Regions from separate parts of the Homo sapiens genome. Here all the other regions are reported to be linked to region 2. Evidence: microRNA targets listed by miRTarBase, many of them from high-throughput screens and not tested one by one. Region 2 holds a microRNA gene; each other region holds the end of a gene's coding sequence.

Region 1 (3,255 bases), not on the chromosome of region 2:
ACTTGAAGAAAGTAATCATATTCTATTTAATTAGCTTACTCTCCTAGACCTAACAGACTACATCCATAACAAGTACATTTTGTCTAACTTGCAAAAAAGTGCATGGACAAAAATTCAGTAAACGTTTGATGAGAAACTATCAACCCTTAAGAAATGGCAATTTTTATAATCTTGTTCACTTTTATTAAACAGGTCCTAATCCTGAAATTCAGGTACTACGCACCTGCAACTAAAACTGAAAAACAAAAATAAAACCCAAGTGCTTCCTATTCCCCCTACGGGCTGAAAATGGGACAGTGTGACTATCTCAAGTCTCTCAAACACAAAGCCATATTCACTCAAGAGAAATCGTTTACATGTGGTTAAGGAAACAGGAAATTTTCACATTGGCTTTAATATTTACATTTTACCAAAATTTTCCTGAACTCAGTAATCATTACTAACACTTTTTATAGTATTATTTACTGCATCTTAAAAAAAAAAAACTAAGCAGAAAGTGTACAGTTGAAGAAAACTGGATGTCAGTCTATACAATGATTTACTTTTGGCATGACAGACTTTATTTTGGCACTTTCACAAATATTTTGCTTTACAGCAGTGACAAAATATTTGCCAGAAATTTTTCTTTTCCTGGCACGGATATTCCCAGCAGTTGTTATTCTATGAATTGAATTTCACTCTGCTTTGCACAGTTAGAGGTATACCCATTCCTACCCTCTGTAATTGAGGGACACAGCGTGGCTTTAGAAAGCTAGGCTATCGTTTCCTTTTAGTCACTCTAAAGTGAATTGGTTCTGTAAGTGATGGGGCAGGAATCTGAGAATTAATTAAGGCCATTAAGGATTTAAAGTAAACACTGTTCCAAGTGTTGCTTAAAAAAATGTTTTTAATGAATTATGTGGCAATTCCAGGGAATGTTCTCAAAATGAAATATTCATACTTTATTAAAAGTAAATTGTATGTTGGAAAAGTTGCTTTTTTTGCTGTCTTCTTCTGACTTGGACGGCTCACAGTTTAAAACAAAATTAGTGGTAAAATAGAAAAAGGAAATGTTTAGTACAGAAAGTACCAGCCACAGTACCCTCATAACTCCATCTCCTTCCCCAGGCATCACTCTTTCCAGCCACTTCAATCCTAAAGCAGTGAGACCCTCATTTTAACACACAGAGCCTCCCTGCCTACCCTCCTTCCCTGTAACGTGAGCTACTGTAGTCCATTTATTAGTTCTTCGGTTAAGCTTCAGTAGACATTTGGAGCACAATTCCAAAGGTAAATCAATCTATAGGCCTAAGCCTTAGATACCAACATCAGGAAAGCCCCATTCAGATCTTTGGAATTTACAGTCTTGTAAGTTATTTGCAAAAGCAGGCGTCTGTCTTAATATTGCCATCAGTTATCCTATAAAGGTTGCAAACTTCGAAATCCCCTGGCAGCCTTCCAATATCTCTACCTAGACACACACAGGATAATACATTCAGATTTCCTCTGGCCAATTCAGAAGTGAATCTGGTAATAAACAGTCTCATCGACAGGCTCTTTGGTCTTGATTTACAGACACTGTGAAACACTTAGAAATCAAACCCACGTCATCCTTGAGAGCAGACGGCCGTTAGCAAAGGGGAGATGTACATTTGATCAAAAATGTACAAAATTTATAACAGTGACATTTTCAATATTAGGCCACATGATTTATTCAGTAGTTTTTATGTTCCCAAATTACAATTTATGTCTATTCATAAGACTACAAAAGTTACCATTAGAATTGTCTGTGCTTATAAAATACCAACTTTTTTTTTAAACTGTTACATATACTCATTAACACCAGTCTGCAACAAGTTACATAGAATCAGAGGCACTTCAAAGGCTTAAAAAGACGTTTACAACTTAAATGCATTTTTAAGAACAAAAACTGATTTTTCTTTAAACCTCTACTCGTACCTTCAAATTGCAAGAAATTAACAAATACAGTGGCCAAAGGAATCTGCAGCAACTTCTTAAAATACTGTTAACATCTTTGGGTTTGCTGAGGCTTGTCAGTAACTTACATCAAATCCTCCCAAAAGAAGATCTGATTAGATAGATATGACTAAACGGTTTTGTAGTAATAATCCAATTTTACACATTAATTTGCTGTTGCAAATCTGCCCAAAGCTACAGGTAATGAAAAATAAAGCAAGTGTAAAATGGATAGTCTGACACTTAAAAATTTATACAAAGTGGAAGTTAAAGTTTACATATTTGAAAATCACATATACACTAAATTACCATTATCTGAATTTTCCAAAGACAAATTGCACCATGACAGCTACAAAAGGCATAGGGTTTGGTTTTAAGGGCACAAGAAGGGAGGGCAGAGGAGAGGAAGGGGACAACAGATAAATTAACAAAGTAAGACCAACTTGGTAAGGTCAATCTGAGACATGCTGACACAAATGAAACAGCTTTCATCTTTGAGTCATAGGAAAAAGACAATCATTTTGTATTTGCGCATAAAAGTTTAAACCAATTCCATGAACATCGAGGGTTTTCATAACATAATATTTTGCCACTGCTATTCACAGAACACTGCAGATGTTAAATTTTAATTTTATGTTGTTCTAAAGAAATACATGAAATGTTTTAAATACAATGGGATTTTATCATTAAAGTGCCAGAATGGCTCTTTAATGAAAACAAAAAACAAAGATCTTCATTATTCTATGCAAAAGCTTTATTTTGAAAAGTTCAGTGATCTCATAAATAGAGACACTAAGTTGGAGTTTTACGCATAAAACTCCTTAGTAGGTGCCTTCTGATAAGCAGCACTGGATGGTTTGCGTTCTCCAAGGTCATAGCTTCCTTCATCCTTCTTTCTCATGCGATACACCAACAGCAGGATAAGAAAAATTGCAAAGAGAAAGCCAATAACTCCACCAGCAATGACAGCTGAAACAACCAAAAGGAAGATTACTTTAGAAGAGATTCAAGGGTTGCAGACATTAGCTTTATTGTCAAGCCTAATCTACTTACACTTTTATAAAAGGCTTAATTTGAAAACCCCAATAAAAAAAAAGCTGGATTCAATGAAGCAACCTGGTAACTATGCAAATCTGAAACTCCTCAGGAAGGTACAGTAATTTCTTTGGTTAGTGTTAATAATACCACCCAAAAACCTCGATAAGAAAAATCTGGCCTTGATCTTAACTAATTCCATACTTGAAAACTACTTTTGTCTTTTCAGAACTCACATTTCATATTCTAATTTTCTAACTGCTT
Region 2 (3,255 bases):
AACCTGCAGTGAAAGATGAGGAGGGGACACAGACCCTACAGACCCTCCCACAGGGCATCCTGAGGTGAAGGGAGGATGAGGAGAGGCCTACTTCCATCTCCACACCTCACCCCGCCTGCACCCTGAGGTCACATAGGACCGTGTCTCCAAATTGAGCCTCAGTCCTCATCCTCGCTGGCTTGCTGGTCAGCCTGTCTGAGCTGCATCAGAATGAGGGGTAACAGTTGATCCTGGAGGCCCCACACAGAGCCTGGCACACTGAAGCCAATCAACAGAGAGTGCTGTACCCCTGGCACAACCTCCTTGCCTCCTGTCCTGGGACTCCTCTCTGACCACCCCTGGGATTGTCTTGTCGTCCCCTTATGTCCATCTGCTCCCTAACGCTCTGCTTGGTGATCCATCCCGGGATGATTTGCTCTCCCAAGGCTTCAGTTACCGCCTGTTCACAGAGCTGCTGCCTAGGACTCTCCTGAGCTCGAATCCCTGATGCCCACAGACCTTGCAGACAGTGAAGGGCCTATGGACCCCAGACTCAGCTTGCCCCAAGCTGGGCTTGTCACCCTTCCCCAAAACCCACTCCTGCTCCAGCCTTCCCACCACCCGCAGGAGCACCTGCCTCCATTCACAACCGCCGACACTACTGCAGCCTCATCCTAACTGACCTTGGCTTCTCTGGGAGACCCTTCCTGCACCCTGAAATGAATCCTCTGCACAAGCACTGTGCTGCAGGACCCCTCACCTGGCTCCACCTCCTACTTTCTCACTTGAAGTCTTCTCTTGTAATGCCTCCTCTCTTGAACCTCAGCTCTGGCTGGGCCCATCTCTGTGGGCTCCTTAATGCCCTGTGCTCGTGTCCACCACCACAGTTCTCTCTACCTGTCCTTTACAGCAGTGCTTTCACGCCTCAGTGTGCACACAAATCACCTGGGGAGACTGTCAACCTGCAGATCCCGAGTCAACAGTCTGAAATGTGGCCGGAGAGCCTGCATTTCAGCAAGCTCCCAGGTGCTGCGGCTGCTGGTCTGTGGACCACACTTTAAGTAACAAGGCTTCAAAGTCCAAGGGGTCCTTTCTGGGGCTCCAGCCTACTGACAAAGTTCTGACAGCTCCTTGGGTTGTCAGTTCCAGAGCCTGGCCCTCAGGATCTCAAGCCAAGGCTTGTATTCTTGGTGAGTCTTTGAGGGCAGAGCTGCTCAGAGAATCACATGCTGTAGCTCGATGCCCGGTACTGGAAGGGTTTTACATGTATCTGTGTAGTCCCGTTCTGTCTAGGCCTCCCTCCAGAGCAGAGCTTGTTTGGTCAGGCTGAGGGGCACATCTGTTTGGTGAGGATTTCTGCTGTGTTTCCCTTTTCAGAGGAAGCTCAAGGGGACTTACCAGGTACTGAGTTCCCAAGTCTGGGCTTTGGAAATGGCGACAGCTCTGGGGGAAGCGGCTTAGGAGAACTTTGATCAGGCTCTGGTACCAGGAGACCGTCATGGATAGGAAGCAGTCCTGAGGGAGGAGCCACAGGCCTGAGTCTTCTGTGCCAGTCACCTCAGATTCCTGTGCCCTCTGCCCTGGCTGCCAGTGGAATTCCTGGCACCTATCCCAGCTCTTTCGGGAGCCCACAGTTCCTTACCAGCTGGGGGTCGATGTCCCCAATGGATTTGGCATGGACTGCTTCTAGGAGTTCCTCCAGCTCTGCCAGGGCCAGGCGCCCCCCTAGCCGCAGTCGATCAGGCCCCGGTGGCTCCAGCAAGAAGAGGCGCTTCCAAAGGGTGTCCCGACGGCAGTGCCCTCCAGCCAGCCGCACCAGCTGAGCCAGCCGTGCTCGTGCCATGCCCACCTCTGCAGCCAGTGGTGGGAACAGAGGAGCCGGTCCAGGCGCTAGAATAAGCCCTGAGGCCTCCCCAGGGCTGCCAGCTGAACTCCCAGGAGCCTCTGGCTCAGGGGGCAGTCTGGGTGGCTTCCGGAAGCGGCGCATGTCAGCAGTGAGCCTGGGGAAGAGCTCTCGCTGGCTGGTGAGCACCACGAAGAACTGTAGCCTGGGGTGGGGAGCAGGGCAGGAGAGTGGTGGTTGTAGCAAGAGACACACAGGGCAGGGTGGGGCAGGCTGGGAAATGGGCATGTTCAAGGTAGGGGATCTGCTGACCGCAGAACGTGCCGCTCAGCCTCTCCTTGCTCCTCAAAGGGTGCAGCACAGTGACAGACAAGCAGAGACACATCAAAGTCATCCTGGTGTCGAAGTCCCTCAGAGTCCAGGTAGGAGCCAGAACTGTGCAGGACGGGTTGGGGAGATGTCAACTCTGGGGTTCTAATAAAACAAACCTCACCCCTGCCCAAGAAAACATTGGTCTCCCTACTGCAAGTATGTCCCAACCCCAGCTCCTGCAGCGTGCATGCTGGATGCCCCTCTCAGCCTTACCTGTGCCATGCCGACACCAGGGCATACTCGTTGTGTTCTGGGCCCCCTGGCCGGGCCATTCGCAATGGCTTCATGTGGTAAGAGCTGGCGTGATCAGCCACGTAGTTGTATAGCTGGTGGGCAGCAATGAGTGGTGTGGGGAGCTCCAATGTCCCTGAGGGATAAGTAACAGGAGACAGCAGACACTAAGCCTAGGACAGACACACTGGTCTGGTGGGGCACAGGGATGGGAGTCTTTAAGGCTCTGACTGGCAGGCAGAGTGGGTCTGCTTTCCTTAGGAGCTCCTGCATTCCTGTGGAACACTGAGATGGGACAGAAGTGACTCAGAGGGCAGGGGACATGTGACATGGGGTCCAAACTCTGGTAAGAAACAGACACAGGACAGAAACATGGGGACGTGGTATGTGTGACATGAGATGATTAACAACATGGGACCACTTGTCCAGGGAGGTGGTCCCACCAGCCCTGACCTGGAGGCACCTGTGGCCTGTTCTTTTTTGGGTTCACTGGCTTGCCCTTGGGCACTGACCTTGGTAAATGTGATTGCGGCCAAAGTGGGGTCCGTCAGGGTGGTGGGCCAGGAAGTGTCGCAGAAAGGTGGTGAGGTGGTAGCCGTGCCGCAGCACCAGATGGGCACCTAGCACGTGCTGATGCACGAGGCGCAGATGGAAGTCATAGCTGAACGAGTGCACGTGCATCAGGTCCCGCACCTTGTCACACTCCTCTGTGAACAGCATGGACAGCTGGGGAGGCAGCAGCAGGAGACAGGGTTAAGGTATGGCTGCACTGGCTGCCCAAAACACATTTCCCTCCTTCCGTGGGAAGAAGCACAAGATTTCCCCTGCTG
Region 3 (3,255 bases), not on the chromosome of region 2:
ACATCAGGCTCTCTGAGCCTCCTGTTCATGACCTGTTGGAAGAGTCCAACAGGTCTGCTGAAATGTGACCTGCTGAAACGTGCGTTTCAGCCTGGCTGGTTTCTTTTTAGAAGACTCTGGGCTCTGGATTCAGACCCCTCTCCCTCCCTAGGATGGAGACGAATGTCTGCAGAAATGTGAGAAAACAAGATAGACCGTTTGCTAACGGCTCTCTTCCTTGCTTGCAGCGTGCAGGGCTTGCTTTCACAAACAGTGCTTCCAGTCCTCCGAGTGCCCCCGGTGTGCGAGGATCACAGCGAGGAGAAAACTTCTGGAAAGTGTGGCCTCTGCAGCAACATGATGCCCCTGAGTACTGTGAAAAAGACTGTTCAACATGCCTTATGATAACACCGATTTGTGTCTATTATTGGTGACATTGTTTTAGATATTGGGTATTGTATATTAAGGAAAAAGATGGTCTATATTCTCTTTATTGCATATACTTAATGTTTCAAAAGAATGCAGATTCTGTGTTTAAGCACAGGGCTGATAGTTGTGGTTTTGTTTACAAATGTTCTGTTTTGGCTGCTATTGGTTTTTTAAAGAGGTTTTTTATACTTTTGTATTTGAATAGTTATGTTTCACTGATGCTGAGCCAGTTTGTATGTGTGTGCATATATGTGAACTGTAACTGACAAGATGAATTACTCAGTTTCTCTTTCTCTAAAGCTTGTTTGATGAAACTGGTTGGTCCTTTCAGTGAACAAAAATATGACCCCAAATCTGTTTGCTCTGGCTTTTATTTCTTCAGGAAGCAGACTTCCACTTAAATGCCATTTTGTGATTGTGTCAATCATACACATTTTATTTACTTCAGAGTTTGAATAGAGAGTACACATTTCTTCTGCAGATTTATTTCATGATGAGTTTGAGTTGCTTAGCAGGGCGTGTGGGTCCCGTTGAAGTGCAGTTTGAAGCAACTGCTTCTAGATGGCACTCTTTCAGGTGGCACAAATTGAACCTGTATTTGTCATCTCTGTTCCACACACTGCAATGTCAAGGGATGCAGAAGTGAGTAGAATTCCATCCCTGCCCTTGAGGATCTTGCTTTAACAGATGTAAAACTGAACATAAGGTATTTGCAGATTTAAACGAACTGGGGGAAATAATGAACAGTGTGATTCTAGTAATAACATTAAAATCATAGACATTGACTAATAAGGTTAAATGAATCACAAAACCTTTATGAATTTCTTTTTTCTAATAGTTCTTATATGTTTTCCTGAAACATGTGAGCCTATTCTTTTTTCTTCTACTTTCTATATACTTTCTCCCACTTGAGAAAGGGGCCTTGAGGCTGGGTCCCTTCATGGTATACCTTTAGACTGAACGGTTTGCAACCTAGGGCTTGGGCATTACATTCCCTGGGATTCACATGCCCTAACTAAACCTACCTTGATTTTCTCAGACAGCACAGGCAGGCAATAAAGCGTCACAGATTGTCCCCTAACCCCATCCAGCCATGTGTATGAGTGTGTTTTATTCAATGGGATAGTACTGAGCACATGAAAGAAATGAATGACTTCTGTCAATCTCTTTTCATTCAGTCTTCTCATTCTGTCAATTGTTTTCTCATCCGCAGTGCCTCTGCCAGAACTGTGCTCACATCCATTATTTAAGCCAGATCTTTTCTAAGTATTATAGAAGTGTAGAGGCACATAGAATAAATAAAACCAGACTTCAAACAATGTTTCATTCTTGCCCATTGCTCCTATTCCCTGTTAAGAATCAAGGGTAAGAGTGGTATGTTCACATTCCTTTCTGAGGCAGATGTCTATATCTCCATTTACAGGCAAGGAAACTGAGGCCTAGAGAAGAGAAATAACTTTCCTAGGTTCCCACAGGAAGTGCATGATGGAGCTGGGGTTGACATTCAAGTCCACCTGCCTCCAAAGCCCATGCTTAGGCCCTGCTTCTTTTGTGGTGTCTTTTCAAGACAAAGGAGTAAAAACAACCTTAACTGGTAAGTGTTGCTCCAACTTGCAGAAGTGGCATTGGGCAGAGTGTTTTCTCACATCAGTGTTGATTTAAGGCAGCTGCTATGGCTCAAGCATTGCTTGAAGGGCTCTGTGCTCAGGGTTTGTATGTTTGTAAGGCACTGATGAGCCTGTGTGTGTTACATATCTTTGATATTAAGGAAGAGTGCACAGCAGTTGCCAGGAAGTGATGCTTTTGATTTTCTATTTTGAGGAAGAATGAGGTCATTTAAATAACTGCAGTATGGGATTTGTCTGAGACTTTGTTCCTCTCCAATGTGATAATAGAGGCTTCTTCCCAGGAAGGCACCTGTTAGGGAAGTGATCTTCAGCCCACATGGAGCACCCCATAAGGAAGTAATTAGTTGTGGCATATATAGCTGTTTAATGGGTCTTCCTGATTGTGTGGGTTTTCTGTTCAACTCTTCCTTGGCTGCCGGAAAGAAGATGAATGCTTGGTCAGACCATTACCCACTGTGAGGCATCAGTTGCAGTGCTGTAAAGGTCAGTGATTCATTTTCTGCCTCTGCACTCTTCACATGGGCAATTCCAGTAGTGTGTCATTTACAGTCATGATTCTCAACTGCAGGGAGGAAGTTACACCATCTCAAGGCAGAGGCTATAGGATGAGGAGGAGCAAGCCATCCCAAAGATGTCTGGTGTGTTGACCTGGGTGAGAATTATTGGCCACAACTTCAGATTAGATCCCAAATATGCCACTTTCTACCTACCCATGGTGACTTGGTGCTCTAGTTTGGCTTGTTTGACTCCTGCAAACCTCATGGTGAAATTTGATCCCCAGTGTTGAAGGTAGGCCTAATAAGAGGTGTTTGGGTCATGCGGGTGGATCCCTCAAGAATAGCTTGGTGGCACCTTTGTGGTGATGAGTGAGTTCTCACTCTTAGTTCCCATGAGAGCTGGTTGTTATGAAGCCTGGCACCTCCCTGCCCTCTCTTTGCCTCCTCTGTTTCCATACAAGGGGAGTCTGCACACGCAGGCTCCCCTTCCCCTCCACCATGAGTGGAAGCAGCCACAAGTCCTAACCAGAAGCAGATATTGGTGCGATGCTTGTACAGCCCGCAGAACCATAAGCCAAATTAACCTCTTTTCTTTATAAATCACCCAGCCTCAGGTATTCCTTTATAGCAACACAAATAGACTCAGACACTGGGGAAGCCATTTAAATTATCTAAGCCTCTGTTTGTAAAATGAGGGATATGACTCTCTGCAGTTGAGATAA

What was found. The annotated mature microRNA hsa-miR-6735-5p reads CAGGGCAGAGGGCACAGGAAUCUGA and lies in region 2 at 1,538-1,562, opposite strand. An mRNA with a match to its seed (bases 2 to 7 or 8) in the 3' UTR can be bound and repressed. Matches are read on the target gene's strand: a 7mer-m8 pairs with bases 2 to 8, a 7mer-A1 pairs with bases 2 to 7 and ends in A, and an 8mer does both.
Region 1: miRTarBase lists SDC2 as a target of hsa-miR-6735-5p. Seed matches in the 3' UTR shown: 7mer-m8 at 2,348-2,354.
Region 3: miRTarBase lists RUBCNL as a target of hsa-miR-6735-5p. Seed matches in the 3' UTR shown: 7mer-m8 at 1,069-1,075, 7mer-A1 at 1,416-1,422 and 7mer-m8 at 2,960-2,966.

Annotation. Positions count from the first base shown.
Region 1 is chr8:96,609,055-96,612,309 of GRCh38, reverse strand. SDC2 (syndecan 2) reads right to left here. Exons shown (of 5, transcript NM_002998.4): 5 at 520-2,925. The coding sequence ends at 2,762. Among named protein-coding and RNA genes, the nearest start is that of CPQ, 35 kb to the left of the region's middle.
Region 2 is chr1:43,446,851-43,450,105 of GRCh38, reverse strand. MIR6735 (microRNA 6735) reads right to left here and starts at 1,567; the gene lies at 1,495-1,567. It overlaps SZT2 (SZT2 subunit of KICSTOR complex), which reads right to left. Exons shown (of 72, transcript NM_001365999.1): 66 at 2,938-3,151; 67 at 2,408-2,561; 68 at 2,135-2,257; 69 at 1,622-2,027; 70 at 1,378-1,494; 71 at 1-3. SZT2-AS1 (SZT2 antisense RNA 1) reads left to right here and starts at 1,462. Exons shown (of 2, transcript NR_046744.1): 1 at 1,462-2,003; 2 at 2,174-2,330.
Region 3 is chr13:46,340,470-46,343,724 of GRCh38, reverse strand. It overlaps RUBCNL (rubicon like autophagy enhancer), which reads left to right. Exons shown (of 15, transcript NM_025113.5): 15 at 228-3,255. The coding sequence ends at 340. Among named protein-coding and RNA genes, the nearest start is that of LINC00563, 44 kb to the right of the region's middle.